4 separate regions of the Homo sapiens genome follow, and regions 1, 3 and 4 are each linked to region 2. The links come from fine-mapping of genetic effects on gene expression. A gene starts in region 2. Each other region holds a variant in brackets. All regions are shown on one strand. Distances are between the middles of the regions.

Evidence for each region. PIP is the estimated chance that this variant, and not a neighbour inherited with it, causes the effect. A credible set is the group of variants that fine-mapping cannot tell apart.
Region 1: its variant is the best candidate, but not a certain one, in a credible set for the expression of HSD17B11 in whole blood (TOPMed, PIP 0.51).
Region 3: its variant is the best candidate, but not a certain one, in a credible set for the expression of HSD17B11 in whole blood (INTERVAL, PIP 0.54).
Region 4: its variant is the best candidate, but not a certain one, in a credible set for the expression of HSD17B11 in lymphoblastoid cells (CAP, PIP 0.68).

The regions. Positions count from the first base shown.
Region 1 is chr4:87,521,003-87,527,146 of GRCh38, forward strand. All of the region lies in intron 1 of SPARCL1 (SPARC like 1), which reads right to left. It overlaps LOC124900729 (a long non-coding RNA gene), which reads left to right. Exons shown (of 2, transcript XR_007058171.1): 2 at 4,351-5,493. Among named protein-coding and RNA genes, the nearest start is that of SPARCL1, 5.3 kb to the right of the region's middle. The variant CT/C (reference allele first, on the strand shown) is at 3,230.
Region 2 is chr4:87,389,427-87,393,426 of GRCh38, forward strand. It overlaps HSD17B11 (hydroxysteroid 17-beta dehydrogenase 11), which reads right to left and starts at 1,762. Exons shown (of 7, transcript NM_016245.5): 1 at 1,435-1,762. The coding sequence starts at 1,644. RefSeq lists enhancers at 1,974-2,043, 2,057-2,629.
Region 3 is chr4:87,443,962-87,450,105 of GRCh38, forward strand. NUDT9 (nudix hydrolase 9) reads left to right here. Exons shown (of 8, transcript NM_024047.5): 5 at 5,181-5,292. Among named protein-coding and RNA genes, the nearest start is that of SCPPPQ1, 24 kb to the right of the region's middle. The variant G/T (reference allele first, on the strand shown) is at 3,540.
Region 4 is chr4:87,450,816-87,456,959 of GRCh38, forward strand. It overlaps NUDT9 (nudix hydrolase 9), which reads left to right. Exons shown (of 8, transcript NM_024047.5): 6 at 774-920; 7 at 3,556-3,640. Among named protein-coding and RNA genes, the nearest start is that of SCPPPQ1, 17 kb to the right of the region's middle. The variant G/GT (reference allele first, on the strand shown) is at 1,994.

The sequences.
Region 1 (6,144 bases), 130 kb after region 2:
TACACAAACGACCAGAATATGTTTTTATTTTCGGTACTATGGTTTATTTTGCATTCTTTTTCTGTAATTGGTTCCACTTCAGTTTCTATGATATTTCCTAGAAACTTAAATTACAGTAAGATTAGGTCGAAGTAGATATTTGTATTTGATTTATTTTCAGTTCCTATAGTTTTTTAGAACATTAATTTACATTTAAATTTTAAAAGATAAATTTTATTTTTGAAGTTCTGTATATTGCCATGCCACTTAAATCAACTTAGCACACCTGCTCCCCTGGGCACTTCTTGCCTTGCTGTACTTCTTCTTTCTATCTTCCTTCTCTTTCCTTTTCTCTTAAGCATTAATAAGCTGTCTGAACACTGAACCAGACTGTAAACGCAGTCATCCATACCTCTGAAAGGAGGAACAGGATTCCTCTTTCATATTGGCCACATCAGTGACTCCCTGGAAATTTTAGTGCTGGTAGTTATTGCTTCAAGTCTTTCTAATTGAATTTTCCTTGTGTTGCCTAGCATTCCCCTGGTTTCTGAACCCTCCAGTCTGAACCCTCCAGTGGTTAGCTCCTTCTGTGGCAGCCTCAGCAAAATTTACAAGTCCTCTTCCTTCCCTTCTGGGCCTAGGGAACTTGTTTCAATATTTTTGGGTTTCAAGGCAGATGATGACAACTTGATCTGTTTATCACTTTGTCTAAAGTTTAATGAACTAAGAAAGACATACCATGTGTACTAGAAAAAGGAGAGGTTTGTCTTGTTACTTTCTTTTTCTTATTACTCTTGGCCTATCATTTCCTGGAGTATGTACATCCATGCATCCAAATAAGGCCAGGTATCTTCTGTTGAATTTGTTTATATCAGAGGAAGCCTGTAGACTGCTATTTTTAGCAATTATTACAACTATGGAAAAATTTCCTTTCTGGGAAATGTAGTAAACAAAACAATTATTATAGGTACTTTATAAACAGACTCAGAACGTTCCTGTTCACCTTGTTTTTACATAATAGTCAAAGGCCTTGTTATCAGAGAGCAAATCTCTTAGTCATATTTTGGCTAACATATACGTGCTGTTACCTGATCCAGTGTTAACACTGATGCTTTAGAGCTTTTAAAGTATTAATGAGTCTCTGGGGAGAGCTCTATGGTTTGGCCCTAAAGTCATCTGAAGGGTGAAAAAGACGTTCTTCTATTTTGAGTTCTCTGCTGAGTCACCATCTGACATCAAGGTGTCCCAGCCCTGTGAGTGTATATGATATACTCAGAGTCAATGACTTAAGACTTTTCTGGGCATCTGACCTTCAACTGCCCATCATCCTTCCTAATTGAACCTACCACCATAAGAGTCTGAGCTAGGGATAGACATGGTCATGCCTGTTGGGGCTTTGAGACTAACCAGAAATCCATCCAGACGTTAAAAGTATACATTAAACCTGAATCAAGCAAAGGGCACATACATTTAGTGCTCAGGGAAGGGAGTATTATGGAGATTTACATCTTCCACTGCTCTGCCCTTGCTCTCGGGAGCTGGCTGCCTCTCAGTGCCTCAAATAGGCCACGATCCCTCTTGCTCCAGGGTCTTTGCACAAGTGTTCACGCTGTCAGAATTCTCTCTCCAGCACCCGCTCCTCCCAGCCACCACCACCAAACACACACACACACACACACACACACACACACACACACACACGCACACACACAGAGTTAACCTCTATTCAGACTTCAGATCAAGGAAAGCCATTATTGATCCTGAGTGGAGGTCAGGATCCTTATATACTCTCTTGGAACAAAGGTGTTTTGCCTTCATAACACTTATTTCAGTGTATCATTATATATGGCATGTGTTCAAATAAAATGTGTTTTTTCTCACGCCACCAAATCCTGCCGTAAAAAAGAGGGATTTGACTTATATTCAAGTGCTTCCAAAGTTTCTTCATTTTGAGCAGCAAAGTACTATTCAAAAAAACAATTAGAAATCATCTCAAGAGCTGGGCACAGTGGCTCATGCCTGTAATCCCAGCACTCTGGGAGGCCGAGGTGGGTGATCACCTGAGGTCAGGAGTTCAAGACCAGCCTAGCCAACATGGCAAAACCCTGTCTCTACTAAAAGTACAAAAAATTAGCCAGGCGTGGTGGTGCACACCTGTAATCCTAGCCACTCAGGAGGCTGAGGCAGAAGAATTGCTCCAGCCCAGGAGGTAGAGGTTGCAGGGACCCAAGGTCACACCACTGCACTCCAGCCTGGGTGACAGAATGAGACTCTGTCTCAAAAAAAAAAAAAATCTCAAGCAATGCTTATTTTTATTCTTAGGAAGGTCACCTTGACAAAATGGATGAAAAAATAGATAAAGATATTTAAAGCAGGTTTAGTCATTATTCCTGAGGTATGACTTCATTATTGCAAGTTGGAATCACATAGTTTTAGAAAGCCACACTTACAGTTTCAAGTGGTTTTTAAATACGCCCTTTAAAAAGCACTGGAAAAACAATCTAGTCAGTAATGAAAGTGTGGAGAACATGACCACGAGTGAGGACTAATGCCTGGGGATTAAATTTGCAGCATCAGCAGATGTTTAGCAACTTGCAGAAGGATTGATGATGTGCTCTGTATTAGATAATTACAGCGTGGATCCAGTGAACATACACATTGGTGTTAAAGATGCGTATGAAGAGTTTTAACAAAATTGTTTCATGAAATGTGAGAAAGGAAAAAGTCATGTTAATAAGTATAAAATATTTAAATTAAAGTAACATATTAAATATGTATGTGAACCATAGATTAAATATCCCAAGTGTACATTACAATATATTACCCATTTGTACATGCTGTTTGGCCAAACACTTTGGTTGAGGATGTTCTCACTAGAAAGATGAAGATGGCATTGTATTTGGGGGCACCTTATGTTTGGTCCTATGCAGTTTTCATTATTGTGATGGTTTGATTAATGACCATTTTCATAACTACATAGTAAGCACCACAAGAGCTCAGCCCCTCTCTAGTTTTGCTCCTTGCTGCATTTCTGGAATTTTGCATGGGATAGAACACTGAATACATTAGTTGTTTGAGATGTAAGATAAAAATGCTAACTTATTTTCATAATTGCATGACCTAGAAAACACTGGAGGAACTGAAACAGAAACGTAATAAAAAGTTAATGAAAGATAAGATGTTTTAATACTTTTTACCCTGGTGTTAATCAAGATGAGATGAGTCTTTATAAATGTAAAAAGTCACAATT[CT/C]TTTTTTTCCCCCTGTAGAAATCAAATGGTTCACATTTATGCAATGATAATTCTGAGGCCTCTATTCATTATATTTGACTCACTGGGAATTCTAAGTTCAAAAAGGCCATTCATGTCAGAGTTAGATCAAACTGAAACTTACCCAATAGTCCCACAGACAGATCTTTTTGAAAAACATAGAAGTTGACCCTCCTGGTCTTAAAGTGTGAAACTTATATTTGTTTTATCTAAGTTCCTTCCTCAGGACAGGACCTTCAGGCTTCTAAAAAAGTATAAAAGAATGGAAACTCACCAGATCACTGCAGCAGATGCCTGACCGCTTATTCACCATGATTGTTTCCTTACCCCTACCTAGTTCTTATTTTCTTACACATTGTTACATTTTTCCCTTGCTATGTAAACCCCTAGTTTAAGTCAGTTAGTGAGATGGATTTGAGACTGTGCTCCCATCTCCTCAGCTGCAGCACCTGATTAAAGCCTTCTTCATTGGCAATACTTGTTGTCTCAGTGATTGGCTTTCTACGAAGTGAGCAGCAGGACCTAGACTGGAACCTTGCTGTTTCAATAACAAAACCATGAAAAAGAATTGTAATAACTACTACTTATTGAGCATGTACATTCATTATTTTAGTTAATCATACAATGATCATCTTGGCATGGTGGCTCACACCTGTAATCCCAGCACCTTGGGAGCCTGAGGCAAGCAGATCACTTGAGGCCTGGAGTTTGAGACCAGCCTGGCCAACATGACAAAACCCCATCTCTACTAAAACAACAAAAATCAGCCAGGCATGGTAGTACATGCCTGTAGTCCCAGCTACTCAGGAGGCTGAGGCACAAGAATCACTTGAACTCAGGTGGTGGAGGTTGCAGTGAGCTGAGGTCATGTCACTGCACTCTAGCCTGGGCAATAGAGCAAGACTCTGTCTCAAAAAAAAAAAAAATACAATGATCTTATGAATTAGCTGTTATCCACATTTCACAAGTGGGGGAAACTGAGGCTCCTGAGCTTAGCAGCCAACCTTTACCATGGGTTAGATACTGTAATAAATGCCTTACATGCTCAATCTCATTCAATTCCCATGACAATTTTATGACTGTTATTATATCTATTTCACAGATGAGAAGACAGAGGCACAGAATGGATTAGATTAAAACAACTAGAAGGTATGAGTGCCAGGATTCAAGTCCAGGCAGTCTGCCCCAGAATTCCCCTCTATAACCACTACACCATAGCACATCGTGAAGATGGGAGGAAGCAGTGGGAACTTGAAAAATGGATTTATTGCAGGGTTTGCTGCAGTATGTGTATCATGTGAGGCCATTTCTATTTCTCTTTCTTTGCCTTCCCAGTTGTTTTTCCCCTGTATGCCACAGTAAACTAGCCACTGTTTTAGCAGCTCTCTTGTTGATTTTTAAAATACCTATTCACTAAATCTTTAAAGGAAACATTTAGCTACTGCAATGGGTGTACATAAGTTGGTTGTGTAATAGGAAGGAAACAAGCCAGGACTGGAGACTTCATTTCTAAAGAAGGATTTTAAAGCAGACTAAGAGTTATTTCCCAGAGCAGGTCATGAAGCAGGAGTCTCTCTACACCCTTTCATTGCTATGACGACAGCCTGCTCCTGCTACATGCAGCCAGAAAAAGCAGCTTACATTTCAATGCTAGGAACATAGGGGAGAGGTTTACAAAAACACCAAACAAAGACAAAAAAACAAAAAAAAGACTCTTTCACTTGAATTTCAGTTAGAGAGGAAAAAATATCCCCTGGAGCAAGTCAAAAGCCCTATTCTTGCCTTTAGAAGAGATAAGAAAGAAGAAATGTTGGGGGCTTTCCCTCTTGTCCAAGTGGGCCAATAAAACAGAATTGACAGCAAAGCAGCATTTCTTCTCACTCTGTGTAATGGCAAGCTGGCATAGAACACTTTCTTTGGTTTCCTTTGACTTGGCCATTAAGAAGCTACTAACTGATGCAGCAGTGAAGTCTCATAGTAATAAATACCTCGTGTTGAGGCCCCCCACCAGGGGAAAATAGTAGTGTCCGATTTACTTTTACATTTCTTTGGATAAAAAAGGCAATTCAAAGAATATTTCCTTCTTGATCTCCATTGTTACTACCAGAGAAATCATTGCAAGTATGTAACAGAGGCCTCACTGATATACGAGATTCCTTATGAGCAACCAGTCAACTTTCCTATGTGTTTACTTCTCTGCCAGGTGCTATACTTGGCATTTAATAAACATCACATTTCATTCCTACAACGACCTCATTTGTGTGTATTATTATCCCCATTTTGCTAAACAGATGAGTAAACTGAGTCATGCAGGTGGGAAGTAACTGCCAAAGCTTACACTGATTGTAAGAAGCAGAGTCAGGATTCTAGCCCAGATGCATTGGACTCTGAAGCCCATGCTCTGTCCACTCTGCTGTGCTGCCTCAGAGGCATACACCTGGCATTCATATTTTATTATAGAGCAAAACGTATAAGTACAAGGAAGAAACCCTGAGAAAATATCTAGAGTCAGTTCCCGTTCTACGGAGTTTCAATAGGGACATATAGTTAGTCCAGTACTTTCATATTATCTACGATTGATTGATTGCTTTAATGTACCAAACATGGCTCTTTTCTTCACTTAATTCTTACAACAAATCTCTGAGGTAGCTACTGATTTTATAATCCCATTTCCATGAATGAAGAGACTGAGGCACAAAGAGATGAAGTTGTTTGCCCAAAGTCACAGAGCTATTTTGTGGTAAAGCTTGGATATAAACCACGGTCTTATATAAACAGGGTCCATATGGTCAGATATAAACCACAGGTCATGGCCTTATTCACTTTATTAGATTGCCTCCCCACCTTTGGAACAATCATCAAGACCATGCACTCTGTTTTTCAAAGTTCTATCCAT
Region 2 (4,000 bases):
TTAGCCAGGCTGGTCTTGAACTCCTGACCTCAGGTCATCTGCCCGCCTCGGCCTCCAAAAGTGCTGGGATTACAAGTGTGAGCCACCGCATCCAGCCTGCACTTGTAATTACTTAATGTCCATTTTCCCTACTAGACTGAGGTCATGGAACCTTATTTTCTGTTTGTCACCCTATCCCTAATGTCTAAGCAGCAGACAGTCATTATTTGTTGATTGCTGTCTTCATCAGCCACTCACTGGGTTAACCCTCATTTAACTTCACATCCTTTGAATTATTGTTTACAGCATTGCATGTCAACTAGTGTGTAATGGATAATGTTTCAGGCCATCAGGTATCTTCTAGAAACCCCTTTGTTCATCTACCAAAGGTCAAATAAAAGGTTGGATTCTAGGTCCTCTTCTCCTCCCTAAGCCACACCTACACTTGTCCTAGGTAAAAAATTACACTGAAAGTTTTTTTCCCTTTTATTGTTTTTACTAAAAGATGCTTTCCCGCCACTCCTTCAGTATCACAGGTCAAACGTGGTAAAAAATGTTTTTTAAAAAAATTTGAGACAGGGTCTCACTCTGTCACCCAGGCTGGAGTGCAGTGGGGCGTTTACAGCTCACTGCAGTCTCCACCTCCCAGGCTCAAGCAACCCCCCACCTCAGCCTCCCGGAAAAGATGCTTTTTAAAATTACTCTTGGCAATAACTATGGCAATGTAGCATTGGTTTCTGTTGAGTATAATCTTTTTGTTTGTTTTTTGAGACGGAGTCTAGCTCTGTCGCCCAGGCTGAAGTGCAGTGGCGCCATCTTGGCTCACTGCAACCTCCGCCCCGCGGGGTTCCCGCCATTCTCCTGCCTCAGCCTCCCCAATAGCTGGGACTACAGACGCCCGCCACCACGCCCGGCTAATTTTTTTTTGGTATTTTTAGTAGAGACGGGGTTTCAGTGTGTTAGGATGGTCTCGATCTCCTGACCTCGCGATCCGCCTGCCTTGGACTCCCAAAGTGCTGGGATTACAGGCGTGAGCCAACGGCGAGTATAATCTTTCAAACCACTTTTCTCATTAACAGTAAGTAGGACTTTCTCTTAATAGGTACAAGCTTCTTACTCTTTTAATATATAGCTAAAACGATTGTTTTTTCCCTATTTTTAAAATAGAGGGATCAATGAAATCAGGTTCAGGAAAAAATTATGAGTTATCCTTAGGGCAAAAATGGGGATCAATTTACAAATGGGGCAGTAACTGGGACTATTATAACCTCTAGGTCTGTTTATCATGTGATCATACAACATATTAATTCATGCCCTCCCATCTGCAAAATGGCAATACTAATTTTTTTTTCCTCCCTGCTTTGCAGAGATGAGGTAAAGGGTGGTTGCCAGCAAAATGCAGACACATCCACAAATTAAAGGTACCAGAAAGTAAAACATAGTAAACACTGTTACCTTATTTATATCCCAGAGAACCAGCTTGCTTTTAAGTTTAGCAAATTCATAGGCAGTCAGTCTCCCAATTCCATGCCCAGCTCCTGTAATCAGCACGATTTCGCCGGTGACTGATTTTCTCCTCTTAGGAATAAAAAGCTTCACGAAGGACTCTAGGGAGCAGACGATCAGTAACGGGAGAAGCAGGAGGATGTCCAGAAGAAATTTCATCCCTTTTGTGGCTGCGAGCGTTTGGTGTGTTTTTTTTTTTTTTTACCACTCTAAACTGCTTTTAGAGGGTAGCTCGATCTAACACCAGAAAGAGTAGGGGCGAGAGCAAGGAGGAACTCCCGTATCAAAGAAAAACAACTCCGAAACCGTTCCTTCCGCTGGGCTGGGCTTTGTTGGTCTTTCGCAATTGGCTCGGGCTGCAGTGCTTGCTAGCTCAGAGATCTGGGAGGGACGAAGTCCAGACCGGAGCAAAGCTTCCTAGTTCTGCTTTGCGCAGCCCCCACGCGGTGTGTGGCCGCGATTGTCTTTTACACCACTTTCTCCCGGTGTCGTGAGCCGGCCTTGGAGGGTTAGTTGCTCACTTGTTTTCCTAAATTGGATAAGTTCCAAGGATAACCGACAGTGTCCACAGGCCAGATGCTTCTTTCATAGTTGAAGGTTGCTTATCACTAGATAGGGGGTGCCGCTGGGCGCGGCGGCTCTCGCCTGTGATCCTGGCACTTTGAGAAGCCCTGGCGGGAGGATCGCTTGACCCCAGGAGTTCGAGATCAGCCTGAACAACATAGGGAGACCCCCGGTCTCTTTTTTTTTTTTTTTAATTAGCCAGGCGTAGTGGCGTGTGCCTGTAGTTCCAGCTACTCGAGAGACTGAGGCACGGGAATTGCTTGAGTCCAGGAGGTGGAGGCTACAGTGAGTGAAGATCGCGCCACTGCACTCCAGCCTGGACGAAAAGGCCAGACTTTGTCCTAAAAAACAAAAACTAGATAGAGGATGCAAATGTAGATTCCTATCTTAAAGGATCCTGAAAAGACCAATCGTTCTGCTTCCAGCTGAGAAATTGCGCTACATCACATTTTAGTTTGAACTAAGCACGATTTCTGGAAGACAGGGGAAATTTTGTCTGTTCAAGGACAGCTTCAATCAAGCGCCAGAAAAAATTGTTATCGTATTAAAGGGATTGTTTCCACAAGAAAGAAGAGTATATTTGAATAATCATTTTTCACTTGACCTATTAGAGTTTGAAAATAAAAAATATATGTTGTACTTTAGGAATTTTATCTTTATTCAAGTGAATAAATAGCAAATCATTTAGCCTAAAGATTACCTATGTAACATTTGGTTTTGTAGCCTATATAAATGGGTATTCAGTATATGCTAACTAGTGACTTGAAAAAATTCTAGAGATTGGTTACTGGAAGAAAAGACCTAACTAGGGCTTGTGTCCAGTAAGAGCTTAATAATGGTATTGCATGCATTTTTTTCCAACTCATTTTTGACAGACATTGGATTTGGGTTTTGCGCAAGACACTCCAGTGCTTGGGAAGGGACTTTGTTGTGTGACAATAGTCAACTTTCATATTTAAGAGCCAGAAAGATCACACAAAAAAATCAAAGTTCACAAATAGTTCAAACTCGATTGTCCCTCTTACTTAAGCAGCCATACGTTGTTATAGGGGATGAAGGGATAGTGGCAGCCTCACAAAAGTGAACCCCATTATAGAATTCTTTGAATTCAGAATATCTACAACTTTTTTTTGGATAGCCTCCAAATCCAAATTTACAAAACACTTGTATAGAAAGTTTACAAAGTGTTCTTCCACATATATTATTTCATTTGATTTTCAAAAGCCTCCTAGGAAATAGAGAAAAGTAGAGTCAGGATATATTTATACCTATACTGTAAATGAATAAATCTGTTAGATCAACTTTAAAATCTACACAGTGAGTAAAAGTGTAACTGGGGCTACACATATGTTCAGTGTTTGTCAATTTTTTGGTCCAACACCTACAGGAATAAATTACATCTGACATGGTGATCTACTATAAGAAGTGTTTCAACTATGTTGAGTTTCATATATTGAGGCTCTAGCTATGCTATTTTTTTTTTTTTTAAAGGAGTCTCCCTCTGTCTCCAGGCTGGAGTGCAGTGGCGAAATCTTGGCTCACAGCAACCTCAACCTCCACCTCCCAGGTTCAAGCGATTCTCCTGCCTCAGCCTCCCAAGTAGCTGGGACTACAGGCACGCACCACCACACCCAGCTAATTTTTGTATTTTTAGTAGACAGGGTTTCCCCATGTTGGCTAGGATGGTCTCAATCTCGATCTCCTGTTCCACCCACCTTGGTCTTCCCAAGTGCTGGGATTACAGGCGTGAGCCATGGCACACGGTCTGGCTATGCTATTTCTTATTCCATTCTATTAATTAAAAAAAACTGGGTAGTTTTAACCTACAGTTGATCAAGGTTTCATTGGTTAAGGGAAAGAACACAGCATTTGGACGCAGTCGTACCTGAATCCCTTATGTGTATGTGACTTCATCTCTCTAAACATGTTTCTAAATTTGTAAAATTGAAAT
Region 3 (6,144 bases), 56 kb after region 2:
ATTCAAGTCTCTTGATGAGCATGAATCAGAATTAAGAAGGTCAGTGAATCTAATGTTTAGATATGCTTAGCTATCTCCACAGGAATCATCTTTCTAATGTACCTGAAATATTGTCATATTTGTCATCCTTTTAATTTTTATTTTTTTACTTTTAGAATTTCTTTGCTGACCATCTGTCTCCCCACGTGGAATTGTCATGTTCTTTCTTTAAATAATGCAAATATCCTCATATTGTTACTTTCTTAGTTTTGATATTTTGGGGGCTTTTCTTCAAGGAGACTCTGTTTTTCTTTGATCTGAGATATAATAATAATTTGATAGTTTAACTCTTTATATATTTTTTTATTTTCAAGTTACTGGAAGAGGCACCCATTCTCACCCGGTCTTATTTTCTTACTTGCCCTCTTGATTCTCCTGCCAAAAAGGATCTTTACCCAACCCCAAATTTTATCTTCCCTCCATCCATCCATCCACTTACTCACCCATTCACCTACCTACTTACTTAACTACTGATCAGCCTACCTCTCCATCCACATACTGTTAGAACCTCTATGGTTTAAATGAGATGGAAAGAGTTAATAAAAAAAATATTAATGGCAGTGTTAGTTTCTGATTTTGGTGAAGCTGGCTAAAAACAGGAAGGTATGAAATGTTTGAAACAGGAATGTAATGCTAGTAAGGGGACAAGAGCAGAAAAGGGAAGCCAGAGTTTTGAAGGTTAGAATCTAGTTAGCTTATCTTTATCTATGGTGGACCCAATAGTGGCTGGGAGTATACATGGTGATTGTGTATCAAGTTGTTTTGAAATGGTAGACTTTTTTAGCTTAACTTTGTCATACAGATAAGAGAACTGAAGGCTTAGAGATGGTCCGAGGCTATAAGAGAGCCCACAGGTGGCAGAGTCTGGCTTTCAACTGTACTCTTAAGTTGATGTTCTTTGTTATCTCAATAATGCATTAATTAATAATTAATAGTAATGCATTAATTAATAAATTGATGAGTTCCTCTAAATAGATGAGAGGCAGCAGAAATGGAACAGAGAAGAATGAAAGATGTTGAAGGAAGATTCAAGCCTTAGATGAATTGTTAAAAGTATTCTACTTTTAGACTAGTCTATTCCAGGCATCCTGTCAGTGCTATCATTAGTTTTTCTATTTGTTTTTCACAGAAGCCCCTCCAAGTAGGTATTGATATATCTATTTTGAGGATTTGAAAATAGAGACTCACTGGGGTTAAGTTACTTGCCTAAATGTTGTAGATCTGACATCTGAATCAGGGGTAAGTGGCTTTAAATACTGTACTTTTTCTGTTACACCACTAGTGAGTCTTTACTATACTGTACTTTTTATCATTGTTTTAGAGTATATTCATTCTACTGGAGAATCACCCAGGCACTTTCAGAGCCAAGATTTCACCCCCCTTTCTTTCAAGTATGCACTTCATGATTCAAAACAGCGTTGTTCAGGATTTCATAAACTTTTTCAGAAGCTCCGGGGCAGGTGTTAAATTTTCGGATTCCCAGGCATCTCTCCTAGAGATTGTCCAGGTACAATTATCAAAAGTTTCTTCAGATCCTCTAGAGTCAAAATGAGTTGGGAAGTGTTAATATATTATTGTGAATAAATTCAGGTCAAACAATTGATGACAATTTCATTTTCTGTTCACTTTTGGTTAAAGACAGGAAGGTACATACTGTTAGAACTGGGGAGGGAATAGCAATAGGGCATAGAAATATTACTGATATTCAGTAAATGTTTATTAGGTTCGTCAATTAAAATGATGTATTAGTTCTGTTAGATCAAGAAATTTTGTTTTAAAATTGGTGATAATGTATTTAATACTAATAAATAATATAGCAAGAAGCTACTCTGCTTAAAATCCATACATTTGTCCTTCAGAATAAAATCTGAGAACATATGCAAGCTGCTGATCATCTCTCTGATCCTGCCTTCTCCCCAGTAGCATCTCTCTCTTTTTTTTTTTTTTTGAGATGGGTCTTGCTATGTTACCCTGGCTGGTCTTGAACTCCTGATCTCAAGCAGTCCTCCCACCTCGGCTTCCCAAAGTGCTAAGATTACAGGCAGGAGCCACCACACTACACCTGGCCAGTGGCCAGCATCTCTCTCTATTCTGTTTCTCATCCTTGTTTCATAGTCACAACTGGCTGGCTGAAGAGCAGTAGCTGTATTGAGTCTTTGTTTTCCCAGCTCCTTGCATGTGATGTGTAGTAGGTGCCAGTAAATGTTTATGAGTGAACATAGCCACCATTTGCCTTCTTATCTTTCCTTTTTTTTTTTTTTTTTTTAAGACAGATTCTAGCTCTGTCGCCCAGGCTGGAGTGTAGTGGTGCTATCTCGGCTCACTGCAACCTCCAAGTGATTCTCCTGCTTCAGCCTCCCAAGTAGCTGGGACTATAGGTGCACACCACCCCGCCCAGCTAATTTTTTGTATTTAGTAGAGACAGGGTTTCACCATGTTGGCCAGGATGGTCTTGATCTCTTGACTTCGTGATCTGCCTGCCTCGGCCTCTCAAAGTGCTGGGATTACAGGCGTGGGCCACTGCTCCTGGCCGTCTTTCCTCTTATCTAATTAGTGTAAACATTCTGCTTGTTCAGTTTAAGTAGATAGTATAGTAATTAAGAACACAGATTCTGGAACCAGATTGTCCAGGTTCAAAGTTGTGTTTACGCCCTTGTTAACACTGTAGTCTTGGGGAAGTTACCTAACTTTTCTGTGCCTCATTTTCCATATCTGTAAAATAAAGATAATAAAACAACTATGTTATAGGGTTGTTTTGAGGCTTAAATGGATAAATACATTAAAGCACTTAGAACAGTGTTTTATATATATATAATAAATGCTATCTAAATGGCTTTTAGAAAATAAAAATAAAATCCATACTGTCTTCTGTCCTGTCATCATCTTTTACCTGGATCATAGTAGTAGCCTCCCAGCTGATCTTCTTGAGTCCAGTCTTGCTTTCCTCCAGACCAACATACATGCTTTTGTCAAAGTGAGTGAGCTTTCTAAAATACAAACTGGTTATGGTTTTACCCTGCTTAAAAACACTCTCTGGCTCTCTAAGTAAACGAATTAGATGAATCTTGTCGTATAAGCCTGTTGCCCACTTTTCTGGTCTATCTTTTCCCTCACTGATGCCCATGGTGCTAGACCCCATATGAACATTCAGTTTCTTGAACACATTATTTTATTTTATGACTTTGTTTCTTGCTTATGTATTCCCCTTTCTGGCATTTTAAAAACAGATGTGCCCTCTTGTACTAATTATTATTTCATTTCTGTTTAATATACTCATCAAACTATCACCCTTCTGCTAATTTAGAGCCACTGCTAGACTATGAGCTCTTTCATGGGAGGAACTAGATATGGTAGATATGGTAGTCAGCTACTATATAAGGAAATTTGGAAACTCATATGCATACTAATATTTTATTGGGTTTCATCCAGAGTAATACTTATATCATAGACCTTCTTTTTTGGTTTAGCATTGGAAGTTTTTTTTTTTTTTGTTTTGTTTT[G/T]TTTTGCCTGAGAGATCATTAGGACAATTCCTAAAATTGGGCTAGAGGTTGATATGGAGGTGAGGAAGGGGAAGGGGAGATTTATTAATATCAACATCTCTGGCAAAGAGAGTGTGGTTAGAAAAAGTGTATTCTGAAACTAACATTGCCTTGATACTTTCTACAAAACCCATAAGCAATTCAATTTAAAATATAAAATAAAAGGATAGAGTTTTTTTTGTTTATCAAATCAGAGGGCATAAAGATTGAGAAGCAGGGCCGGGTGGCTTACACCTGTAATTGCAGCACTTTGGGATGCCGAGGTGGGAGGATGGCTTGAGGCCAGGAGTTCAAGACCAGCTGGGTAACATAGCAGGAGACCCCATTTGTAAAACAAAAAAAATTAGCTGGGCATGGTGGCCCACGCCTGTAGTCCTAGCTACACAGGAGGCTGAGACAGGAGGATTGCTTGAGCCCAGGAGTTTAAGGTTACAGTGAACTATGATTGCACCACTGTACTCTAGCCTTGGTGACAGAGCAAGACCCTGTCTTTTTAAAAAAAAAAAAAAAAAGATTGAGAAGTACTGCTTTTGACACCAGCTAAACTGGGTCATATAATCTGCTTTTCTCTTAGCACAGGGTGAACTGTTAAAAGCAAATTTTTTTTTTTTTTTTTTTTTTTTGAGATGGAGTCTCACTCTGTCATCCAGGCTGGAGTGTAATGGCACGATCTTTGCTCACTGCAGCCTCTGCCTCCTGGGTTCAAGTGATTCTCCTGCCTCAGCCTCCTGAGTAGCTAGGACTACAGGCACCCATCATCATGCCTAGCTAATTTTTGTATTTTTGTAGAAACAGGGCTTCACCATGTTGGCCAGGCTGGTCTTGAACTGCTGACCTCAGGTGATCCACCCACCTTGGCCTCCCAAAGTGCTGGGATTTCAGGTGTGAGTCACCACGCCTGGCCCAAAGCAAATCTTACCATGCCTTTTTCACTACCAGTAATTTTTTTTTTCTTATTTTTAGATAGGCCCTCTCTCTGTCGCCCAAGCTGGAGTGTAGTGGCACCATCTTATCTCAGTGCAACCTTAAACTCCTGGGTACAGTGACCCTTCTGCCTCAGTCTCCCAAGTAGCTAGGACTATAGGTGCATGCCACTGCACCCAGCTAATTTTTTATTTTTTGTAGAGATGAGGTCTTCCGTTGTTGCCCATCCTGGTCTTGAACTCCTGAGCTCAAGCAATTCTCCCAAAGTGTTGGGATTACAAGTGCGAGACACTGCGCCTGGCAACTACCAGTAATTTTTAAAAGGGGATTCGTAAACTTATTTTTTAAAAAACTTTGATAACCTTTTCTTTAAATTCTATTCTGCTACTTCTTTTTTTGTTAATACTTTAAGTAGTAAAAATTGTTTATATCCTGAATTTTCATTACAGATAATGTAGTGTCTTTTATGTAATGTAGACATTTGTCCTGGTTTGTAACAGTGATGAATATAGAATATTTCCAGTAAAAATCAATAGTTTTAAATAAAACTAGCTGATTTGAGATAAATTTATATATACTCTGCTTTAAAGAAAAAGTCCTTGTAACTTTATCTCAAGTTTGAGATAGAACCTTAGTTTTTGTTGTAAATCCGTTATGATTTTATATTACTATTCACAGATGGAAAAGGGATAGCAGTGGAAATAAAATCATGCATCCTGTTTCTGGGAAGCATATCTTACAATTTGTTGCAATAAAAAGGAAAGACTGTGGAGAATGGGCAATCCCAGGGGTAAGCATTAAAATTAAATTAGTGTTTAAGTTCCTTTTAGTTGCTTTACTTACTACAGGGTTATTGTTTGTGAATCTTTTCTATTCCATTTTCCTCTATTCCTTCCCACTTCATTTAGTAATTCTTATGTTTTTCATCCCTGCATGAAGTGTCATTGTCAGCAACAAGTTTAGGATAATCCAAGACTGTTAGAATCTGCGTGTAATTCTGACACCTTTGGGAAATAACGTGGGCTTTGAAGTTAGATGTAGGTCTGTGTTCTGGCCGTTCTACTTGCAGCTGGGTGATTGGGAGTTCAGGCCCTCATCTTTAAAATAAAGAGATCTACTTCACAGGATTATTAGAGATCACATTTAATAGGCATTCATTATGTTGGGTCCCATTTCAGAATTTAACCTCCACTCCAAGCCCAAGGTAGTATTTTTAAGCACTTTTTGGTTGAATTCTGATAACTTTTGACAATATTTAAAAAATTAGCTTTTGTTATTTACTGTTCTGTGTAGTTTAAATAATTTCTATAATGTTATCAAGATGAGTATACTTTTGTTGGCTTGTAGTTTGAATTTATGGCAGTGGTATATTTGAAGTGGCCATTTATTTTTTATTTTTTATTTATTTATTTATTTTGAGACAGAGTCTCACTCTGTTGCCCAGGCTGGAGTGCATTGGCGCAATCTTGGCTCATTGCAACCTTTGCCTCCTGGGTTCATGCAATTCTTGTGCCTCAGTCTCCCAACGTAGCTGGGATTACAAGTGTGTGCCGCTATGCCTGGCTAATTTTTGTAATTTTAGTAGAGACAGGTTTCACTGCGTTGGCCAGGCTGGTCTCGAACTCCTGGCCTCAAGCAATCT
Region 4 (6,144 bases), 62 kb after region 2:
TCATTTTGACAGTTATTCATCTAATCAGTGTATTTTTAGTATCTTCCTTTTGTCAGCTAATATTTTAGACACTGAGAATACAACAGAGCAACATGAACAAATAACCTCTGTCTTTTGGTGCTCCCATTCCAGTTGGAGAGACAGATAATATAAGATACATAAGTTAAATATATCGCATGTTAGAAGGCAGTAAGTATTAAGAAACAAAAGCAAGGTAGAGGACTAGGAAGTGTTTGAGAGTTTGCGATTTTAGACAGGGCAGTTAAGAGAAGACCTCCCTGAGGAGGTGCATGTTAGGTAACTATCTGAAGGAAATGAATTAGTGAACCATGCAGATATCTAGAGAAAAGCATCTTGGATAGAGATAATAGCAGGTACAAAGGCTCTCAGCGGGCAGCATGTTAGGCAGGTCCTGGGAACATTGAGGAGGTCAGTGTGGCTGGAATGGAATGAACAATGGGGGAAGAATCAATGTGCTGTGTTATTTCTAACCTCCAGTCCTTTTTCCTTAGTTCGAGTTTGGCAAGTACCAGGAAATTGGTTTGATTGCCATAGGCTAACCTTGGACCAATCACTGTGGCCAAATACATGAGGTATCCTTATTGGCTCCTTCTACTAGCAACAGATGGTTTAGAGAACAGTGTATCACAGAGAAATGGGGATCACTATTATAGGCAGATTGAATAATAAATGTTCACTCTACTACTCAATAAATATTTGTTGAACAAATCAAAGCTGATCCCTTTTTTCAAAATTTTTAATGTGACTCTTAGGGGATGGTGGATCCAGGAGAGAAGATTAGTGCCACACTGAAAAGAGAATTTGGTGAGGAAGCTCTCAACTCCTTACAGAAAACCAGTGCTGAGAAGAGAGAAATAGAGGAAAAGTTGCACAAACTCTTCAGCCAAGACCACCTAGTGGTAAGAAATAGTGTTTCTGGGAGGGATTTAGTTCTGTGGATTGATGAAAATGACTTAAAAGTTGACCTGGAAATCTGTATGTCCTTCTCTAAATAAAGTGGAATACTTGTATATTTAAAATATATTCACAAAAACAAATTACAGATCTTCACTGTAAATAGGTTTCTATTTAAAGTTTTATAGCCCAACTTTAGGCTATATAGGCTAAAATGATATATATTTAGTTCATTTATATCATTTATTATAATAACTTTTTTCTTCTTAGTTTTTCTTTCTTTTTTTTTTGAGATGGAGTCTCGCTCTGTCACCCAGGCTGGAGTGCAGTGGCACGATCTTGGCTTACTGCAACCTTCACCTCCCAGGTTCAAGCAATTCTCCTGCCTCAGCCTCTGGAGTAGCTGGGATTACAGGCTTCCACCACCACGCCCGGCTAATTTTTGTATTTTTAGTAGAGACAGGGTTTCACCATGTTGGCCAGGCTGGCCTTGAACTCCTGACTTCAGGTTACCTGCCCGCCTCGGCCTCCCAAAGTGCTGGGATTACAGGTGTAAGCCAACACGCCTGGCCTGTAAACTATTTTCTTTCACGTTGAGTACCCATCCAACAGAAAGCTTTTTGTATGTGCATGAATTCAGCTCTCTCTGAAAGAACATTTACATTTTAAATTATGTCATACAGAGATTTTTCTGGTTGATAATCATTTAAGTCTCATGTCTGTTTTGTCCATATACCCTCTGTGATAGGGTCTTGCTCTGTTGTTCAGGCTGGAGTGCAGTGGTGTTATGGCTCACTGCAGTTTTGACCTCTTGGGCTCCTGTGATCCTCCCACGTCAGTCTTCTGGGTAGCTGGGACCACAGGCAAACACCACCGCACTGGGCTAATTTTTTGTTTTTTGTTTTATAGAGATGGGGTTTTACCATGTTGTCCAGGCTGGTCTTGAACTCCTGGGCTGAAGGATCCCCCCACCTCGACCTCCCAAAGTGCTAGGATTACAGGTGTGAGCCTGGCATTCCGTGCTTTTAAAAAAATACCTTACAAGGTATATGCACACTAATAATAAGAAAATAACAGA[G/GT]TTTTTTTTTTTTTTTTTTTTGAGATGAAGTCTCGCTCTTGTCCCCAGGCTGGAGTGCAATGGCGCGATCTCGGCTCACTGCAACCTCTGCCTCCCAGGTTCAAGTGATTCTCCTGCCTCAGCCTCCAGAGTAGCTGGGATTACAAGCATGTGCCACCATGCCTGACTAATTTTTGTATTTTTAGTAGTGACGGGGTTTCACCATGTTGGCCAGGCAGGTCTTGAACTCTTGACCTCAGGTGATCCGCCTGCCTCGGCCTCCCAAAGTCCTGGGATTACAGGCGTGAGCCACCGCACCCGGCCTTTTTTTGGTCAGTTTTTATTTGGATTGCTTGTTTTCTTTTCAGAATTGGGATTTAGTTATTTATGTTGTCCAGATTTTTTTGAGTTACGTTTGTGCTAGATGAATAGATCCAAATATCTTCATATATTAATAGCTTAAGTAGTAATCTTTAGTTTTATTTATAGATCTCCTTTGTTTAACTAGAAGAATCTACCTTTGTATTTCAGAAACTATAATCACAGAAAAATACTTAAGTGATGGACTCTTAAAAAATCATATTGCCCAAATTTGACTGTTCTCAGATTCTGAAATTAGAGTTTGAAGTGTTGAGGGTTTCATGATTTATTTATTTGTTTTGAGACAGTGTCTGGCTCTGTCACCAGGCTGGAGTGCAGTGATGCGATCTCGGCTCACTGCAACCTCTGCCTCACGGGTTCATGCGATTCTCCTGCCTCAGCCTCCTGAGTAGCTGGGACTACAGGTGTTCTCCACCATGCCCAGCTAATTTTTGTGTTTTTAGTAGAGACGAGGTTTCACCATGTTGGCCAGGATGGTCTTGATCTCTTGACCTCATGATCCGCCCACCTCCGCCTCCCAAAGTGCTGGTATTACAGGCATGAGCCACCACGCCTGGCCTGAGGGTTTCATGATTTTTAAAGCTGCCTCAAAAGAGAATATTGTTCTTTGGGAAATTTGAAACAAGCACATGAAGTACTACATTAAAAGTTTTATGATATTTACATTTCTTTCTTTTTTTCTTTCTTTCTTTCTTTTTTTTTTTTTTTGAGACAGAGTCTCGCTGTGTTGCCCAGGCTGGAGTGCAGTGGCGCGATCTTGGCTCACTGCTACCTCCACCTCCTGGGTTCAAGTAATTTCTCCTGTCTTAGCCTCCCGAGTAGCCGGGACTACAGGCACCTACCACCATGCATGGCTAATTTTTTTTGTATTTTTAGTAGAGACAGGGTTTCACCTTGTTGGTCAGGCTGGTCTCGAACTCCTGACCTCAGGTGATCCACCCGCCTCAGCCTCCCAAAGTGCTGCGATTACAGGCGTGAGCCACCGCGCCCGGCTATTTACATTTCTTTAAAAAAATTTTGATAGAAACACATAATGTCAAATTTACCATCTAAACTGTTGAAGGTACAGCTCAGTAGCATTAAGTATGTTCATGTTGTTGGGCAACAGGATATTTACATTTCTGATGCTAGTGAAGGTAACATGCTCTGCTGTACTCACTACACCTTGGACTTTTAAAAAATTTGTCTTCTTTTGAAAATAGATATATAAGGGATATGTTGATGATCCTCGAAACACTGATAATGCATGGATGGAGACAGAAGCTGTGAACTACCATGACGAAACAGGTAACTTTATATTTATTAAACTGGCTGGGATTAAAGGATCAATTTAAGCCATTAGCCCACTAAGGCATGATTAAATCTGGACTATTTAGCATCTTAAACCAATTAACTGTTGATTGTAGGACTGTAGTTATATGAAAGCAAAATTGTTGGTATTAAAGGAATACATAGAAGAAATCTTCAAAACTTTTATCACCAGTGACTAAATTTTCTTTAATCCATTGGTAACATTTGAAATTAAGGATGAAATTATGGGCTAAAATGATATGCTTTAAAGATGTCAGATTATTTATTGAGTATAGTTCCCTTTTTTTGCAAAACAAAAGCAACTGGGATTTGGGTAGGAAGTATGGCAATGATAAAGGAAATGGGATTTATATCTTACTATTTCAAATATTTTTATAATAATCTTGGATTGTTAATACACAAAGCAATAACAAAAAATTCCAAGTACTGAAAAAATTTTAAATGAATGCTGTTTCTGGTGTATGGAATTTAAAATTTTATGAGGAGGGTCAAACCTGTTATTACAGAAGGAGAAAGGAAAAATCTGCTGTCTTAAAAATTAATTTGGTCTTAATGTACACATTGAATGGCTCCCTTGAAACATATTTTATTGCTAAATTTGATTTGTTTTTATTTGTAGCATAAAAGTGGGGGCACCATGCTAGAGAAATGAAATGAATGTTCCACTCATAGTTCTTTCTGAGCTGTGTAACCTTGTACAAATCATTTGTCCTCTTGGACTCAGTTTTTTCACTTACAAAATGGGCTAGAACTAGATCTGTCATTTCCATATCCTGTGCTTTTGCTTGTTGAACTTGGAGGAAACTCCTGGGACCATTTTCTATTCCTGTATTTCCACTAAGGTGTATTAGAAGAGTTTATCCTAGTATGAAAACTTAGAAGAAATATGCAGATGTAAATTAGAAGCAGGTCTGTACAACTTTAGTACTGATAAATTTGTTAACTACTTTAAAGTTTTGGAGTTAAAAACAATGACTGATCCTCCAGAAGTTGATTATAGAGTTTATGGATTGTTCACTGTTTTTACCCTATCTTTTTCTCTCTTTAAACTTAAAAAATTTTGTTTTGATAATTCCAAAATCTCTGCCATATTTGAGTTCGGTTTTAATATTTGCTTTGTTTCTTTAGGCTATGTTTTTTGCCTTTTAGCGTGCTTTTAGTGCTTTTTTTTCTTTTTTCTTTTTTTTTTTTTTTAACCCCGAGATGGAGTCTTGCTCTGTCACCCACGCTGGAGTGCAGTGGCATGATAATGGCTCACTGCAACCTCTGCCTCTCGGGTTCAGGCGATTCTCCTGCCTCAGACTCTCAAGTAGCTGGTACTACAGGCATGCACCACCATGCCTGGCTAATTTTTGTATTTTTAGTAGAGATGGGGTTTCACCATGTTGGCCAGGCTGGTCTCAAACTCCTTACTTCAGGTAATCCACCCACCTTGGCCTCCCAAAGTGCTGGGATTACAGTCATGAGCCACTGCGCCTGGCTGTAGTGCTTTTTTGAAAATTGACCATGATATAACTTGTAAGGGAACTAAGGCAAATAGTTCTTTAGCGTGAGGTTTTATGTTTATCTGGCTAGGAGTTAGGCTGTGTTTTTTGTTTGCTGTCATTGTATGTGTCAGAGGCTAAAATTTCCTCTAGTTTTGGGTTTCCCTGGAGACTTATTAAATGAGGTCTGAAGCATGCCCTTCTTTCAGCTGTCTTCCCCTTTTATTAAACAGGAGTCCTATTGATAGATATGGTGGTAAATTCTAGAGGAAGGGGAATCATAGGAGAATATATGGTTAGATGTCAGTCTTTTAGTGAGCCTGTGGCCCTGGGCTGTGACCCTTCATATGTTATTCTCAGCTTCCCTCCTTCCTCCCCAATCCTTAGGAAAGACAGGAAATCCAGCGGGGGCTGGAGTTGGGTATTTCCTTTCCCTCAGGTTGCTTAGGGCTTGGTAAAATAGTTTTCCTTGAGGGCAGAGTGATCTGGGTGTATTTGAAATTGGTTACCTTTCCCCTCTCCATGTTAGAAAGGAGAGAGGATTTTTCTCCAGTCTTCACCTGGTGGCTTTCTTGGAGGTAAAGCTCACTAAAATGTAGGCCCCCTCTTCATACTGGTATGGCTGACCCCCTAGGAGATTTTATCTTTCAAGCTAGTCCAAAGGTCAGCTTTCAGCAGTTAGTTACCCTTTAAGTGTTCCTACCAGGTGCTGACTCCAGCGGTAGGCTTCTCTCCCTGGTCAGTTGTGATTCTCTGTATTTGCCTGTCTCTCCAGTTTTTGGTATGGCAGTGTGGTCTCTACTAAGAATACAAAAAAATTAGCTGGGCGTGGTGGCAGATGCCTGTAATCCCAGGTACTCGGGGGGCTGAGGCAGGAGAATCGCTTGTACTCAGGACGCGGAGGTTGCAGTGAGCCGTGATTGTGCCACTGCACTTCAGCCTGGTCAACAACAGCGAGACTCCATCTAAAAATAAATAAAATAAAATAAAATATTT